2 linked regions of the Homo sapiens genome follow. The protein of the gene in region 1 purifies or fractionates together with the protein of each later gene. This does not show direct contact. Each region holds a gene or a part of one and is shown in the gene's direction. Other genes may lie near its edges.

The links. The genes of interacting proteins can lie anywhere in the genome.
Region 2: the proteins of PDSS1 (region 1) and XAF1 purify together in Homo sapiens (affinity purification with mass spectrometry; one large-scale study listed by BioGRID and IntAct). This does not show direct contact.

Annotation. Positions count from the first base shown.
Region 1 is NC_000010.11:26,704,201-26,707,700, forward strand, and holds part of PDSS1 (all trans-polyprenyl-diphosphate synthase PDSS1), read left to right. Parts: intron 1-476; coding exon 477-541; intron 542-1,085; coding exon 1,086-1,194; intron 1,195-2,999; exon of another isoform or gene 3,000-3,128; intron 3,129-3,500. UniProt on the Homo sapiens protein: Heterotetrameric enzyme that catalyzes the condensation of farnesyl diphosphate (FPP), which acts as a primer, and isopentenyl diphosphate (IPP) to produce prenyl diphosphates of varying chain lengths and participates in the determination of the side chain of ubiquinone.
Region 2 is NC_000017.11:6,762,546-6,766,045, forward strand, and holds part of XAF1 (XIAP-associated factor 1), read left to right. Parts: intron 1-3,500. UniProt on the Homo sapiens protein: Seems to function as a negative regulator of members of the IAP (inhibitor of apoptosis protein) family. Inhibits anti-caspase activity of BIRC4. Induces cleavage and inactivation of BIRC4 independent of caspase activation.

The DNA of each region.
Region 1 (3,500 bases):
AATAACTACTTTTAACACCCTGGTTTGTGTGCTTTCAAACTCTGTTCTCCCATTTCCAAAGGATGTTGAGGAACACGAACTTAAAATAGACAGTGTTTGTATAAATATAAATTCCTTCCTTGCTATTGAAATCTTTTTTCCTCTGACCAATCTTAGTTAAATGGAAGGAAATTGTTTTAAAACTAATTTTCAGGTCTGGAAAGATAGATATGAATATGGAAATGGCTTTCTTTGGGGGAAGGGATGGACTGAAGATGGTTTTTATTTTCTCCTTTTTTCTTATTTATGTTTTCTGCAATGACAAGTATTTTGTAATAACAAAAGGAAACTTTAAAATTATTCTTCCTCTAAAGTTTGCAATCTACCTGTAAATGGGTGATTAGAAGATAAAGATTATAATTATGGGGGTTTTATCATCCAATGTTACAGTTTTTCAGGAATATTCTTACAAGTTTCTTGACATTTTTATTTTATAGATACCCTATATTAATCTTGTGAAGCATTTAACATCTGCCTGTCCAAATGTATGTCGTATATCACGGTAAGTTTACAGTCCATACTGCAACTACTAAAATTATCCATTTTTAAATTTATTGTTGTTTAAAAAATTTTTTTTGTAGCGATGGGGAGCTCACTGTGTTGCCCAGGCTGGTCTTGAACTGCTGGCCTCAAGCTATCCTCCCACCCTCAGGTTCCCAAAGTGCTGGGATTGCAGACATAAGCACCCGGCCTAAAATTATTAATTATATTGCCTGTAAATTTCTATTCTAAATTGTAGATCTCTGCCTATTCAAAAAACAGGAATATAATAAAGTTTGAGCTCAACCCAGAGCACAATGAACATAGTTTAGTTTTTCTTTGATTTTGTGGGTTCTCAAGGCCCTATTTATAAAAGTGATCTATTGATCTGTCATTTAGCAAGAATAGAATTCTGTATGTTTTTCCAAATTATAATGACCTTTTCAGATTCATGATTAATTTCTAGCAAATATTTGGGCTGAATTTTCCGTATCTGAGTCTACTAAATATATATGTATATAAAACTTACTTGAAAATGAAGTCATGTGCATTTTTGCATGTCCCAGGTTTCATCACACAACCCCAGACAGTAAAACACACAGTGGTGAAAAATACACCGATCCTTTCAAACTCGGTTGGAGAGACTTGAAAGGTCTGTATGAGGACATTAGAAAGGTGAGTTTTTTATTCTGCTGTGATGTAATGTTTTAGCTTACCAAAACTTACTAAAATTTTATTTTATTTTTTATTCTTATAATTATTATTATTTTTTGAGCTGGAGTCTCACTCTGTTGCCCAGGCTTGAGTGCAGCGGTGCAATCTAAGCTCACTGCAACCCTTGCCTCCCAGGTTCATGCAATTCTCCTGCCTCAGCCTCCTGAGTAGCTGAGATTATAGGCATGCGCCATCACACCTGGGTAATTTTTGTATTTTTAGTGAAGACGGGGTTTTGCTATGTTGGCCAGGCTGGTCTTGAACTCCTGACCTCAGGTGACCTACCCACCTTGGCCTCCCAAAGTGCTGGGATTACAAAAAAACAGTGCAGGTTTTCAGATCTGTACAATGCAGTTTGCAATCTTGATTGACGTATGGTCAAGTTTCAAATGTTTCTTGAGAAGAATACATATGACCCAGTGCCAGGCAATATGAAGAATGCAATATGTATTTATGTCCAGAAAGAGGTTATGGCAGGGTTGGGAACCTGAAGGAAAAAAATGGTCCAGGTAGCTCATGCTTGTCCAATGAGTTATCCCACCTTTCCTCTTAAAACCCACCACCTCCCAGTGACTCCAGCTGTCTCTTCCTTATCTAATTCTGAATGTCATTGCCAGTCTGCCCCAAATATGGCTTTCTTCATTCAACTCTTTTTCCTGAAAACTTTCAGTAGTTCCCAACCTCACGTGGTTGGGCACCGTGGCTCGTGCCTGTAATCCCACCAATTTAGGAGGCCAAAGCAAGAGGACTGCTTAAGCCCAGGAGTTTGAGGCTGCAGTGAGCCATGATCCCGCCATTGCACTCCAGCCTGAGTGAGAGAGCAAGACATTTTTTCTGTCTTTAGAAAAAAATTGGCTGGGCACGGTGGATCACACCTATAATCCTAGCACTTTGAGAGGACACCACTTCCTGTTTCACAGACAGTAGGGGCTGTGGAGGAAGAACTCCTTCAGCTCCTGCTCTGTCGCAATTGGCCAGCTTGCCTGCGCCTTCTCTGGCGATTGCCTGCTCTCCTCCCACCCGTGGAAGTCATGTCCCTTCCCTCTCTAGGGGCAGTCCCTTAGCCAACCTCCCTAGTTTCTTAGGAACTCCCCCAGACATGGCCTCTCCCTCTGTCTGCAAACTTTCATTGGCATGGTCTTCCATATCCATTGGGTGTTCAGTTTCTTCACCTGCATTTTTAAAAGGCCCATCCACTGACCCAGTGCTTCACTCCCTCCCTTCCCTCACAGTATCCCCTGCCCTCTGCCTTCCTCCAGTGCCTTCATGTTCCCTCCACTATTGCACTGGGGCCCCCTTTCCAGCCTCTCCTCTGAAGCTGGTTTTGCTTGGGTCACTGATAGCTTCCCTGTGCTAAATCCAATGGATGTGTTACCAGCAGCAAATTTGTACAGGTCTGCAGCAACCTCAATTCTTGCCTCCTCAGAAGAAAGAATTCGACTGAGGGGCCTAAGGCAGAAGGAGAGACGGAGGCAAGTTTTAGAGCAGGAGAGAAAGTTTATTATTAAGTGTAGAGTAGGAAGGGAAGGAAGTAAAGTACACTTGTAAGAGGGCCAAGCTGGTGACCTGAGAGAAAGTGTGTGGTTTGACCTTGGAATTTGGGTTTTAGATGTTGGCATACTTCCAGGGACTTGCATCCCGTCTCCCCGGATTCTTCCCTTGGGGTGGGCTGCCCGCATGCGCAGTGGCCCGCCAGTGTTGGGGAGGGGAGCATGCTCAGTGTGTTTACCGGAGTTTTGCGCATGCTCACGTGAGGCATTCTTCCCATACCAGTCCCAGTTTTCCTAGAAGGACATACACCAATTAAGCTCTGCCATTTTGCCTCTTAGTGTGCATGGTTGAGCCGACTCACCCAACTCCCGAGATCTTATTGGGAAGCTGATCACCAGTTTCAGGTTTTTGTATCTATTGAGAGACTGCCGTCCCTTGGCACCAGCTGTGACCAATTAGTATTTTAGCGACACAGTTAACAACTGCTTGACCATCACGTGATGGTCGCCTTCCTGTTGTGGGTCGGGGAGCCCTCTCCTGCCCTGCTCATGCCTGACTAGCTATCTACTGTAACGGACACTTCCTGGTTTTCTGACCATTGGGCACTATTGACTGTAACCCCTCCTTGAAACATGGTTCCCTTCACTCTGCACTTTGTTCCCCCTCCTTATCCTGAGGCTTTTCTTCGGTTCATCACCTCCAGCTCACTTCCTTTAATTTTGCCATTCCCTGGGGTTCCGTGGGCCCCCTCCTCTCTCTCTTCCTTATATATCTGT
Region 2 (3,500 bases), on another chromosome or scaffold:
AGGGCCTGTCTTACTGTTTTCGGTCCCATGTGGGAGTCTTCTCTATTAGACTGTGAGCTTCCTGCAAAACTGCATGACTTTTTCCATTTTCCTGACATCAGAGCTTGGTGCAAAAAGAGGACTCTGTAGAGGCGCAGTTACGTGATTGACTGACTGACTGATTTTGCCTGGGAACACTCACAGGTTCTTCCCTCCATAGCCCCTAAGCGCCGTTTAGTGCATTGCTGTGCCAAGTTGCTCCCTTCTTTTGCACAGAATGGAGCATTTCCCCTTTGGGAAACTTACCAAGGCTTCTCTCCAAAGAACTCTTCTCCTTCTCCTTGGGCAGAAAGTTGTTTACCTTTCTTAACACTTCAGTGCTTAAAACTACAGAATATCAAAACTAAAGAAACCATAGAGACGATCCAGCTTTTCGCTCTTTTCTTTTTCTTTTTACTATTGTGGTAAACCACGTATAATGTAAAATTTGCCATCACTATAGAGACATTTGGTACATTCACAATGTTGTGCAATCTGGTTCTAGAATATTTTCATCATTCCAAAAAGAAATCCTATACCCATTAGCAGGTACTGTACATTCCCTCATCTTCCCAGTTCCTGGCAACCACTAATCTGCTTTCTATCTCTATGGATTTGTCTATTCTGGACACTTCACATCAGTAGACTCATATAATATGTGGTCTTATGTAACCATCTTCTTTCACTTACCGTAACATTTTCAAGGTTTGCCCGTGTTGTAGTTGTGGCATGTGTCAGCATTTCATTCCTTTTAATGGCCTTTTCTTTTCTTTTATTTTTTTGAGACAGGGTCTCACTCTGTTGCCCAGGCTGGAGTGCAGTGGCGTGATCTCGGCTCACTGCAACCTCTGCCTCCCGGGTTCAAGCGATTCTCCTGCCTCAGCCTCCGGAGTAGCTGGGGCTACAGGTGCCTGCCACCACGCCCGGCTAATTTTTGTATTTTTTTTTAGTAGAGACGGGGTTTTACCATGTTGGCCAGGCCAGTCTCAAACTCCTGACCGCAGGTTATCCGCCTTCCTCGGCCTCCCAAAGTTAATGGCCTTTTTACGGTCATCCCACATTTTGTTTCTCTACTTGTTGGTAAACATTCGGATTGTTTCCACCTTTCAGCTCTTTGCTTTTTGAAGTGCAGTCTGTGGACCAGCTGCATGAGCATCACCTGGAATCCTGTTAGAAATGCAGAATCTCAGGCCCTCCCCCTAGAAATGCTAAATCAGAATATGCAGGGTCACATGATTTCCCAGGCATTTCAAGTCTGAGATGCGCTGCCCCAGCCACGGGATTCTCAGCCTTGGCTGTACGTGGAAATCACCTACTGACTTGTTTTCCTTAGTACTGATGTTTATTCGATCCTATAAGTGGTCCATGTGTTCTGTTTGAATGAGAAAATACTTGGTGAGCACCAAAACAAGAGTAAAGCTGACTACTTCCCTTCAAATGTCCAGCCTGGCAACCAGGGCACCTACACACTTATTTGAAGGCTACAGGGAAGTGGGGAGCTCCAATACACATGGAACTGGATTTGTGCTCAGAAACTCTGAATTTTAGTTCTGCTGTGCCCCTTACTGGCTGTGTAACCTCTCTGAGCTTCTTTCTTCTTTTGAGGAAAATGGGGATAATGGTTTATCTCCTTGTTCAGGAAAAGAAGACATCCACAACCAGCCAACACCAGATCTATCTCCTTGGCAGCATCCACACTCACTTACTTTGCCTTCCCACCTCTTAACCATAGAGGAGCTTCCTATGTGCCTCTCTAAAGCCTATCCCCTCCTACTGGTATAATATACCCTCTCTTTTTGCCTACACAAGGTCACACAAGTTTTTTGCTACACTGCTCCAGCAATTCTCCCCTCTCTGTCCTGCAACAGAGAGAGGTTAAATGAGCTGTACACGCAGGTAACAACAAAGTCTCACATCTCTAGGTTGTCCTAACATTTCTTACAATAACTTTTTAAAGGGGTACCACTATTGAATATTTATATATCAATGGCCTTGCACGAAAAGAATTTTTTTTTAATTTTGAAAATTAAGGATTGAAATCATGTATACTAGGTGGTTTTGTGGTTTTCAGTCTTTAACTTTTTATTAATATGACCCAAAGCCAGAAAAACATGAAATACTTCTGATCCCATTTCCTATAAGCTACCATCTTGTTTCTTTGTTCCCCTCCGTAGAAAAACATTTGAGCTAGTTGTCTATAAGTAACTGCCTCCATCTTTTCTTCTCTCATTCTTATTCCCACTCCAGTCTGGCTCTCCATTTTAACCAAATCTGCTCTTGTCAAAATCAATGACCTCTGCATTGCTAAATCCAATGCTCAGTTCTCAGTTCTCAATTTATGGGAAGCATTTACTGCTCATCACTCCCTCTTCCTCAGTGGACTTTCTCGGCTTCCAGGGTACCACACTTTCCTGGTTTTCAAGGACATTGGTGGTCTCTCATTCTCTACCTCCCCAGCCTCTTAATTTTGGGGGGCCCCAGGGCTTAGTCTCTGGTCTCTTCTCTACCTATATTCACTGCCTTCATTATTTCATCCTACCTCCTGATTTTTAAAAATGCCATATGTAAGGCCGGGTATGGTGGCTCATGCCTGTAATCCCAGCACTTTGGGAGGCCGAGGTGGGAGGATCACAAGGTCAGGAGATCGAGACCAACCTGGCTAACACAGTGAACTCTCGTCTCTACTAAAAATACAAAAACTTAGCCGGGTGTGGTGGTGGGTGACTATAGTCCCAGCTACTCGGGAGGCTGAGGCAGGAGAATGGCGTGAACCCAGGAGGCGGAGCTTGCAGTGAGCCGAGATCACGCCACTACACTGCAGCCTGGGCGACAGAGCGAGACTCCATCTCAAAAAATAGATAAATAAATAAAAATTTAAAAATTTTTTAAAAAGCCATATGTAGTCAGACACTTCCAAATTTATATCTCAGTCTGGGTTTTTCTCCCCAAACTCTAGATTTGTATATTACTATTTACTGCATCTTCACTTGAATGCTTGATAGACATCTTAAATGTAACACATCTGAAATGGAATCCTCTCTGCCACAGCTTGGCCCATCTCAGTTGATGGCAACTCTATCTTTCCAGTTGTTCAGGCCAAAATCTCAGGTTCACTCTCGACTTCTCTTTCCCTCCGCATTGCTACCCTGGTATGAACCATCATCTTCTCTAGCCCAGATGCTGCAGCAGTCTCCTAAACGGTCTTCCTACTTCTCACCTTGCCCCCTACAGTCTATTCTCATCACAGAGGTCAACGTGATCCCTTAAAAATACAAGTCAGATTGTTTGGCTCCTCTGTTCAGATCTCTGTACTGATTCTTGCCCCATTTTATGCAAACTCAAAACTACAGTGGCTTTAGAGATCTATGTCATCTTTGCCTCCCTTCTTATCTCATCACCTCTTTGATCTCATGTACTACTCCTGTTCAGCTCACTGGCCTCCTGATTGTTTCTTGAGCATACCATGCCTTAGGGCCTTTTCA